2 separate regions of the Homo sapiens genome follow, and region 2 is linked to region 1. Evidence: fine-mapped expression QTL. A gene starts in region 1. The other region holds a variant in brackets. All regions are shown on one strand. Distances are from middle to middle.

Region 1 (5,362 bases):
CTTGAATCCAGGAGGCAGAGGTTGCAGTGAGCCGAGAGTGTGTCATTGCACTCCAGCCTGGGCGACAAGAGCCAGACTGTCAAAAAAAAAATAATAATTAATTAATTTAAAAAAAATTAGCCAGGCATGGTGGTGCACACCTGTGGTCCCAGCTACTTGAGAGGGAGGCTGAGAAGAGACAACGGCTTCCGTCTGGGAGGTCAAGGAAGGCTGCAGTGAGCCATGATCACGCCACTGCACTCCAGCCGGAGCAACACAGCAAGACCCTATCTCCAAAAAAAAAGAAAGAAAAAGAAAAGTTAACGTGTTTTTGTTTTTGTTTTTGTTTTTTGACGAAGTCTCACTCTGTCGCCCAGGCTGGAGTGCAGTGGCACGATCTCAGCTCACTGTGACCTCCCAGGCTGGAGTGCAGTGGCGTGATATGAGCTCACTGCAACCTCCCCTTCCCAGTTTCAAGAGATTCTCCTGCCTCAGCTTCCCAAGTAGCTGGGACTACAGGCAGGCGCCACCACGCCCAGCTAATTTTTTATTTTTAGGAGAGACGGGGTTTCACCATGTTGGTCAGGCTGGTCTTGAACTCCTGACCTCAGGTGATCCCCCTGCCTCGACCTCTCAAAGTACTGGGATTACAGGAGTGAGCCACCGCGCCCATCCAAGTTAACATTTTTAATATGTGTCCCCTGCCCCGGGACCTGAAAGCTCCCAAAGAGAAAGCCCCTTTTGTGTTGTTCTTTTCCCTTTTCTCATCCGTGTACAACAAGCAGAGCCAGGCACACTGAGGCTGTGAGAGTGATGGGAAACATGTGTTGAATGAGTAAATGACTCCACTGAGCAATACATCCTCCCCCAGAAAAATGCACATTTGGACACACACATTTTGAAAGCAACTTTAGGGCTGGGTGCAGTGGCTCACACCTGAAATCCCAGCACTTTGGGAGGCCAAGGTGGGAGGACTGCTTGAGCCCAGGAATTCAAGACCAGCTTGGGCAACACAGCGAGACCCCATCTCTACAAAAAACATATATAAATATAAAGGTTTTAAAAATTAGCCAGGCGTGGTGGTGGACACCTGTGGATCCAGCTACTCGGGAAGCTGAGGTGGGAGGATTGCTTGAGCCCCAAAAGTCAAGGCTGCAGTGAGCTATGATTGTGCCAATGCACTCCAGCCTGGGCAACTGAGTCTCAAAGAAGAAAGAAGAAAGAAAGCAAGAAAGCAAGAAAGGAAAGAGAGAGGAAGGAAAGAAGGAAGGCAGGCAGGCAGGCACAACTTTAGGAGGAATCACACCTCTATTTACGCCTAGTGGTCCATTATTGGAACGTGACGCCTGTGGGAGTTATCTCCTACTGCTCAAGGTCACTGCCAAGGTATGATTTATCAATTCAAAAAATTGCAACCTCAGGCATAAATGGGTTAAGCCCACCCATAGAAGCCCCATTAAGAATAAGGTTGGCTGGGCACGGTGGCTAATATCTGTAATCCCAGCACTTTGGGAGGCTGTAGGCCGGCAGATCACTTGAGCACAGGAGTTCAAGACCAGCCTGGGCAACATGGTGAAACTCTGCCTCTACAAAAATTTTTAAAAATTAGCCAGGTGTGGTGGTGTGTGCCATCCGGGCTTCAGGTCAGATTAGGTTTCTGTCTAAGGGCAGCCTCCTCCACTGGCACACAGTCTGGGCCAGGACATGCTGGCAGAATTGTGCAACGTCGTTGTTCTGAGCCGCAATCGAGCAGCTTTTATGACCAGCTATGAAGCGCTCTTCTAGTGCCAGGGCCTGGAGTTATTGAAGTTTCAAAGGAGTTTTTGTCCACCCGAGATGGCAAGCGGAGAGCAGATTCAGGCCAGGGCACTGCGCTCAGCGCTTTGCGTGCATTACCTGCAGGGACATCCCCACAGGCCTTTCGGATGGGGTGGTGGTTATCACCGTTTGACAAAGAAGTAAACTGTGGCTGGGAGCAGTAAAACACCTTGCCCAGGAGTGTCAGCCAACCTGGGGGTGGCAGGGCTTGAACTCAGGCCGGCGCCCTCGGCAGTTCAGCCCCCTTCCCTCAATTGCCACCATCTGAGTGCAATTCGCTAGCTACTAGGGCACATGAATCCGTGCGGGTCTCTGCCGCACCTGTCTTGCGGGGCCCAGCTGGGTGTCCGCCAAAGCACCAGGAGCGCCGAGTTCCGCGGTAGCGCAGAACCAGGTGAAGGCCTCGGCCAGAGGCGCGCCGGGCCCGAGGAGGGTGGGGCTGCGAGCGCTCGCCCCGGCGGCCTTTGCGCCCCAGTGCCTGCCCGGCCTCCGGAGTCCCCCGGCTGGGGGTGGGCGGCGTCCGGCCAAGACCCAGTGTCCCCACCCCCGCGTCCAAGCCCCGCCCGCGCGGTGGCCCCTCCTCGGGAAGGTAAGCACCACCTTCTCGGGGAGCGGCCCGCAGAGCCAGTGGCCGGCGGGCGCCCCGCCCCCAGCGAGTAGGGACCCGGAGCCACTGCCGCGCCGCAGTCCGGGCTCCCCGCGCCGCCGCTCGCTCACCTGCGCTCCCGCCCGCCCCTCGGTGCGCGCCCGGCCCGCCAGCCGCCGCCGCCCGCACCCCGAGCGCCACCATGAACTCGCTCTTCAGGAAGAGAAACAAAGGCAAATACAGCCCCACTGTGCAGACCCGGAGGTGAGGAGGCGCCCACAGCTCCGCTCCGGGACGCTCTTGCCCCTGTGGGCGCACAGGACCTGGAAGACCTCCCGGGCAGTGTAGGAATGGGGGGTACGGGGGTCCAGGAACCGGGAACTGAACCCGGAGTGCGGGACTCTCGGGAACGCGGGACCGAGGCCACCCTGAAGCTGGGAAGCGCCGCCAGGTGGGAAGGGACTGGCTGGGGTCCCCGAGGGGGAGCATAACACAGGGGACTCCGGGAGCCCAGGGAGCATTGCCTTGAGGGCCTAGGGCACGGGCAGCTGAGCTGGGGGTACAGGGCACCCCCGTGTCCCAGGGTCGCTCTTGCGCAGAGGGTCGCACAGGACCGGGAATAGTCACCTGGATGAGGGGGCGGAGTTTTTGGAGGACCGGGCACTCAAGGCGGGGTCGCTGCGGGCGACCCAGGAAGCTCCGTCCAGGGGGCGCCCTGAGGCAGGGAAACTGAGCTGGCGTCGGGGGGCGCTCTCCAGCGCCTCTGAGACCGCGCAAGTGTTCCTGGCGTCGGGGAGGCGAGGGATGGGTGTCCGGAGGGGGCGGGCCACCCGCCGCTGCACTTCCCGGCACCTGCCACCCTGCGCGCCAGAGCCGCGCCCGGAGGCCCTGGGGGGTGTGGGGTCGGGTCGAGGGGCACAGGGGGAGGCACCCCCTTACCTCCCCACCCTCTGGGTTCTGAGCGGAGGTTGGGCGGCTTCGGGGCCTCCTCTTCGAAGCTCGGTTTCGCAGGGGTGTGGCTCCCTGCCCCCACCCCAGCCCCGAAACTGGCGGCGTCTCTGAGCCGCGGGTTCCCAGGGCGGCCTGGGAGGGGAATGGCATGTCTTGATGTGTTTGCAGGGAGAAGCAGCCCACGTCCCTTTTGATAAGCCTAATGTGTTCACTTAATAACCGGTTTAGGGGAGCCTGGTGGAGATGCTGAGATTGACGGAGGGGGTGGGAATCCAGCCCCTGCCTTATATCCCCACTTCGGAAAATAGAGTGGGGGCTCTGGGCTAGCAAGGACCATTTTGCCAGCTTCTCGGACAAGAGGCTTCAGGCAGGTGAGGGGCCCGCACATTACATGGCTCTCCTGTCTGGGAGTTCTGCCCCCAAGCTGCTCTCACTGGGAGCCCCCACTGTGCCCTCAAGCAGCTCCTCACTTCTTCCCTAGGCAAGGAGAGGCCTCTGGGCCCAGGGCTCCCACTCAACCCCTGCAGTCCGGCCTAGGCCGACCAGTCGGACAGGTGCAGGCGGCGGGGCCCTAGCACGCTGGAGTGCGACACTCCATTCCGGGGCCTTCCAGCCCTTTCAGAAACCCCCCTGCCCTGTGATCCCACCCACCCGTATCTCCGTTTGGGCTCTTTCAAGCTCAGAGGCATTACCCGCCTTTAGAGATTTCCCCACCCCTCCCCTATCTTTCACAACCCCAGAGACTGGGCAGGGCCTGCACACCCCTCCTCCATGGCTGCGTCCAGCTGGCACTCAGACCCAACCAGAGGCCCGTCCAGTCCCTGCACTGTTCCCTGGGGCATTGCACAATTGGATGCTCCGTGCCAGCCGTGGAGAACCGTTCTGTCCTCTCCACCCCAGAGACTAGACCCATCCAGTCCTTCACACATGCAGACACCCACATACCAGTGGTGGGGCCAGGCCTCGCCCCGCCCTCTGCCTCCTCCCAGCCTCCCTCCTTCGTGCAGCTCTCCATCCTGAAGGCCCCAGCTTGGACCTAACAAAAGGTTCTAATGAACCCAGACAAGCTGGGAGGGGTGCGGGCTTTCCCAGAAGCATGAGGATGAAAGGCATCCCATCCTTTATAGCTGCAGGGACTGGGAGGGTCTGGGGTGGCAAAGATTTGGGGTCCTGCCACTCTCTGTATATCTGGCCCAAGGCAGCCACGGTCTGTCCTAGGCTGATAGCCATTGGTCCCAGATCTCCATTTAGACGTCTCTTTCTCCAGGAAGCCCTCCTGATTCTCTCCCCAGCCTGGGGTGCAAGACCATTCCTTTGAGCCTTGCCACCCCAGCACAGAATGAGCACAGCCACAGCCCTGAGCAGATGTCAGATGCCTCCCCGGGTGGTCTCCAAGCCCAGTGCATCCCTCTGCCCCCTCCCCTTAGTGGGGACTAGTTCGCAGACTGGATTGTGGGGTGGGGGTAGCCCTGTACCCCATCCTCTCAAACGCATCTCTTGAACATTGCCTGATGCCCAGCCAGCCCCATAGCAAGTGTCTTGGTGGGGGGGTGGAGGGGACAGACTTGCGGCTCTAGGCTGTGGTCGCTGGTCACAGGGAGTGGATCCCCAAGTTATTCCTTCACTCTGAGTTTTCCAGGGGCCCGCTCCATTGTCTGGGGGAGGACAAAATTGCTGGTGAGATTCAGCATGGGGGGCAGTAGGAGCTCCAGCACTGAGAGCAGAATGCCTCACTGTTGATCCTGGCATCTCCACCCTGGAGCCTCTCGAAGCCTTGTTTTCCCTTTCTGCACAGCACGGGTGGTAATACTGAGTGTCTCATGCATAGGGCTGCTGGGAGGAGCAGTGCTGTAGCACACAGGAGGTGCCCGGATGAGGGTAGCAGCCCTTTCCGAGCCCAGGGGACCCAGGAGCCCCAAGTGGTGACTTTCATACCCAAGGTAGTCAGGCCTTTGGACTACAAAGTGTGGATTAGTGAACGGAACACCCCACCGAGAAAGCCACCCCTTCCAGTTTGTCTGCCTTTTA
Region 2 (5,362 bases), 43 kb after region 1:
CACCCCAAACAGAAACCCTATACCCTGGCTGGGCACGGTAGCTCATGTCTGTAATTCCAGCACTCTGGGAAGCCGAGGCGACTGGATCACCTGAGGTCAGGAGTTCAAGACCAGCCTGGCCAACATGATGAAACCCCATCTCTACTAAAATACAAAAGTTAGCCAGGTGTGGTGGCCCATATCTGTAGTCCCAGATGGGAGGCTGAGGCAGGAGAACTGCTTGAACCCAGGAGGCAGAGGTTGCAGTGAGCTGAGATCGCGCCATTGCACTCCAGCCTGGGCGACAGAGTGAGTCTCCGCCTCAAAAAAAAAAAAAAAAAACAACCCCGTACTCATTAGGCAGTAAGTTTTCCATTCCCACTCCCCCAGCCCCAGGTCACCTTTGGTCTTCTTGCTGTCTCTATGGACTTGCCTGTTCCAGAAGTGTCACACCTAGAACGAATATGAAGAATCAGTGGGATCATGCAATCTCTGCCCTTTTGTGTCTGGCTTCTCTCACTGAGCATCATGTTTTCCGGGTTCATCCGTGTTGTAGCATTTTCAGTGCTTCACCCCTTTTTATGGCTGAATCATATCCTATTGTATGGCTAGACCACTGTGTTTATCCACTCATCTGTGGCTGGACACTTGTCTGTTTCCAGAGGAATGAGAGTTCTTAAGAAGCTGCGGGTAATTCTTAGGATTGAGGTGTCTGGGGAAAGCTGGATGTGGGCGACGCCGTGTCACTCCTCATTCCCTGTCTGAGCCGCACAGTGGGGGCTTCAGGTCCTGTTTATGGCTGCAGCCCAGGTGCTCAGCCCAGGGGATAGCTGACAGTGAACCAAGAGTTGATAGACTGAAGAATGGGCAAGAGAATTTTCGAGAACAAAAAGGGGAGGCTATTATCAAAACCTAGAAAGAAGCTATAGTATTAAGTCTGGATGTTCCTAGTACAGAGAGAGGAACTGAATCAAAGACACCTCAAGACTTACTGATACATCCAAGAAAACATGTCACAGAGGTGGCATCTCATGGATGGGTGGGAAGGGACCTGGCTTTTCCCAGTGAGGCCCCTAAGGAGCCAGCTCAGGGAGGGTGGGGCTGTCTCCACGCAGAGGAGCCTCAGGCTCAGCACAGGGTCCCATGCTGGACTCCAGGTGAACCGGAGGCCCAGCCCCGCCTGAGGGATGAGCTTGAAGCCTCCGACAGAAGCCCAGGTGCTTCTAGTGGTTTCCTGGCTGTAACAGAGCCACCTTCTCCCCTAGTTTCACGAAGACGTGAAGGACGCTCAGGAGCTGCTGCGCAAGGTGGACTCGGACCTGAACCAGAAGTATGGCCCTGACTTCAAGGACCGGTACCAGATTGAGCTGCTGCTGCGGGAGCTGGATGTGAGCGATGGCCCAGGACCCCTGCTGGCCCGGGGGGCGGGGGACCCCTCTACACCATGCCTGCCCTCAGCCCTGTACAGGCCCCTCCACAGCACCCCACCTGCTGAATCCAGCCCCTGCTCTGCGTCCTCCCACCAGGGGGAAGGCTGTTGGTCTCACCTGGGCCCCTGACCCCGTTCTCTCCAGGACCAGGAGAAGGTGCTGGACAAGTATGAGGACGTGGTGCAGGGGCTGCAGAAGCGAGGCCAGCAGGTGGTGCCCCTCAAGTACCGCCGGGAGACTCCGCTCAAGCCCATCCCCGTGGAGGCACTCTGTGACTTTGAGGGGGAGCAGGTGCGTGGGGCCAGCTCCTCTGTTCACATCACTACAAAGTTTTTGGGGTAACATGGTTGGATCCCGGGCCTCAGGCGCCGTTCTCAGGAGCCTGTGCCTGTCTCCGTGGTTGGTGTCACTCTGCCAACCCTTCCCCTGGTGCAGGCCAACTGGCACCCCTATGCCGCCCCCACCTCGGCTGCCCTGGCCTTGTGTTCCACCAGCTTAGCAACCCCAGTCCCTCCTCAGAAGTCCCAGGCCAGGTTCTCATTGGCTCACTGTGAGTCACGTGTCCATCCTACACCAATCACTGTGGCCAGGGAATGCCAGGGTCCACCCTATACCAATGACTGTGGCTGGCGAATGCCAGTCATTGGCCAGGTCCAAGTCACATGTCCATCTGGAGCTTGGGAATGGAGAAGGAGAGACCACAGGGACTGGGAATTGGGAGGGAAGGTTCCCCAAAGGGAAATGGAGGTGGGTTGCTGGGCCGGCAGCCTCAACACATGTGCTTCTCCTGCATGCCCCTCCCCACTCTACGGGGAGGGTCCAAGTGATGAGCCGGGGCTCCCCAGGTCCAAGAGTCGGGGGCTGAGATGGCAACCGGGCTCCCAGGCCCTCAGGCCCTGCCGGGATCCTGACTGTCCAGCCTGCCCCCGCCAGGGCCTGATCTCGCGGGGCTACAGCTACACCCTGCAGAAGAACAACGGGGAGAGCTGGGAGCTCATGGACAGCGCTGGGAACAAGCTGATTGCTCCGGCCGTGTGTTTTGTGATCCCCCCCACAGACCCTGAGGCCCTGGCTCTGGCTGACAGGTACAAGGGCAAAGGCGGGAGTCTGCATGGACCAGTCCCACCCCCAGGGCTTCTCAGGCCCCATTCATAGCCCCGGGGATTTGGACTCAGCCTGTGGGGAGCGCGGGGTCGCTGACACTCTCCATCTGCACCCCCTTGGAAGTTCATGCAGGAGAGGGGCAGATTGTGGGCCAGCTGACTTGCTAAACATGAATGTCTAGCTCTGGGCTTC[G/A]TCCTGGCCCCCTCACGAGTTTCTAAGCAGTTTCTAAGGGCCCCTGACTCCCGCACGCACTGCTCCCTGTACTTGCAGACCCCAGCCCCTTGGCTGGAGGACTCAGCTGGGATAAGGGCTGCCTCCTCTTTGCTCCCAGGCACCTTCTTCCACTGCACGCACCGCTTTTTATTAAGTGACTAGCGTATGCGTCAGTCTCATTGGGCCTGGGCTCCTTGAATTTCCTCTCTCCAGGGCCTAGTTAAGTACCTGGTACAAAGTAGGTGCCCAGGAACTCCTTGCTGAATGAGTGGATCATTCAAGGAATGCCTTCATTTATTAAGTATTTATTGAGCACCTACTGTGTATGCTCCCTCAGAAGTAACATCTTGGTGGTGATTATTGGACAGACAATTTTAGGTAGTGAGACTTCCTACGAAAGAGGAGGGAAGGAGGGAGAAGAGCTCTGAGCCCAGGAGCACAGAAAGGCCAGTGCCACAGTGAGCACTTGCTGTCCGCATCTAAGGAGCTGTCAGGCTCCTCTGGGGTGTCTGCCCAGCCAGAGTCCGCAGTCCCGCCTCTGTGGGTGCAGGGGGTGGTGGGCTGCCCAGGTTCCCAGCTCATTTCTGTCCTCACAGCCTGGGCAGCCAGTACCGGAGCGTGCGGCAGAAGGCAGCTGGGAGCAAACGCACGCTGCAGCAGCGGTATGAGGTGCTGAAGACCGAGAATCCCGGAGGTGGGTGCCAGGGCCACTCGCCTGAGGCTCTGGGGGTACCGGGGAGGAGGGGCTGGACCAGGGTCTGTGCTGTGGATGAGACGGCGGGGGGCTGGCTGCCTAGGTCCATCCCTGGGCCTCACACCCCTGGCCCGTTGTCACACCTGCCTGTGTCCTCCCTCCCTCCACAGATGCCTCTGACCTACAGGGGCGGCAGCTGCTGGCTGGCTTGGACAAGGTGGCCAGCGACCTGGACCGGCAGGAGAAGGCCATCACAGGGATCCTGCGGCCACCACTGGAGCAAGGCCGGGCTGTGCAGGACAGTGCCGAGCGGGCCAAGGACCTCAAGGTACCTGCGGGTCAGGAGCACAGGTGGGGCCGGGGGAGCCCTGCACTGGCCCCCTGGGGCCCCTATTTGAGGTCTTTTCCCCATGGAGTCTTGGGATATTCACTGCAGCTGTCTGTCAGGGACAGCCTGCTGCATGTAAAAGGGTCCCAAGTCATGGAGGTGGCAGGGCTGCTGTCATTACCTCCCCAGGAGAAAGAGCTGGCAGGACTTGCATTGTTCCTGCACGGCTTGTCGATCTGACGCCTGGCATGGCACATGGGCTGTGGAATTCCGCAGGACTGGGTCACCGGCTGGCTTGACTGCAAACACGTTAGCGTTTGTATTTATAAACTCCAGGCCTCAGTGTCTTCAGTAGGATGGGTTGGCCCTGCTCACAGGGCAGTGGCGAGGACAGGGTGAGCTGATGCCAGGGGGGACGTGGAGGGGCCACCTCCCCCCACCTCCTTTCCTATACAAAGTCTCCCACATCCTCAAGGCAGCCCTCTGAGGCAGTGAGTAGCACTCCAATTTTACAGAAGAGGATCTGGGATTGGAGAAGTGCCATAGCCCCTGATGGGGCCTCAGAGTGAGAGCCAAGTCAGGGCGAGAGGATGCCGGTCTCGGGTGTAGCCTGACCCCACAAGTCCCTTCCTAAGCTGCTGGGAGTCGTCACACCCCCACCCGTGACTGGGTGGAGTCGTAGTACTCACCTCCCGGGGTTGCCGCAAAGATTAAACAGAAGCGTCCGCGTGCAGTGCTGAGGACAGCACAGGCCCGGCAGCTGCCTGGGTGCTTCTGGTGTCACTAGTCCATTCCACCTCAGCGGTTCCCTGGGATGCTCGTGAAAAATACAGCCCTCAGGCTGGGGTCCAGATGCCGGGTCAGAGCCCCAGAATGTGCCAGGCCTCTCCAGCTGCTTCCACTGTGCCTGATGTGGGAATCTGTGCTCACCCTGGGCACATCCTCAGGGGAAGGGGCTGCCTGGCTGTGTCCAAAACTGAGGGGCCCTGGTTCCCACAGAACATCACCAACGAGCTACTGCGGATTGAACCTGAGAAGACGCGGAGCACGGCTGAGGGCGAAGCCTTCATCCAGGCCCTCCCAGGCAGTGGCACCACACCCCTGCTGAGGACCCGGGTGGAGGACACCAACCGGAAATACGAGCACCTCCTGCAGCTGCTGGACTTGGCCCAGGAGAAGTGGGTGGCAGACAGGCAGCATGGAGGTTGGGGTGGGGTCAGGGGGCCAGGTGGGCATCCCCCGACGCCTGATTGGTGCTCTCAGGGTTGATGTGGCCAACCGCCTGGAGAAGAGCCTGCAGCAGAGCTGGGAGTTGCTGGCCACACACGAGAACCATCTGAATCAGGATGACACAGTGCCTGAGAGCAGCCGTGTCCTGGACAGCAAGGGGCAGGAGCTGGCGGTGAGTCTAGGGCCCAAGTCCTGGGAGTCCTTCTCTGAGCAGGTGAGAGCATCTGGCACATCCACCCGCCCGTCTGGATAGATGAGGACACCAGCATCCAGTCTCCCCAGGTTTGGAATGCCCAAATTGGGAACTGCAAATGGAGGCCCACAGCACAAATCCAAGCTATTCACGGGATCTGTGTGACTTACGGGATTTCGGGTGCCAGCATT

What was found. PIP is the estimated chance that this variant, and not a neighbour inherited with it, causes the effect.
Region 2: its variant is the best candidate, but not a certain one, in a credible set for the expression of PPL in whole blood (GTEx, PIP 0.73).

The regions. Positions count from the first base shown.
Region 1 is chr16:4,934,269-4,939,630 of GRCh38, reverse strand. PPL (periplakin) reads left to right here and starts at 2,483. Exons shown (of 22, transcript NM_002705.5): 1 at 2,483-2,647. The coding sequence starts at 2,586. RefSeq lists a silencer at 2,141-2,540.
Region 2 is chr16:4,891,599-4,896,960 of GRCh38, reverse strand. It overlaps PPL (periplakin), which reads left to right. Exons shown (of 22, transcript NM_002705.5): 10 at 1,245-1,367; 11 at 1,554-1,700; 12 at 2,343-2,494; 13 at 3,323-3,420; 14 at 3,591-3,748; 15 at 4,748-4,926; 16 at 5,012-5,150. It overlaps LOC124903637 (a long non-coding RNA gene), which reads right to left and starts at 1,245. Exons shown (of 3, transcript XR_007064965.1): 1 at 381-1,245. RefSeq lists an enhancer at 858-1,703. The variant G/A (reference allele first, on the strand shown) is at 2,706.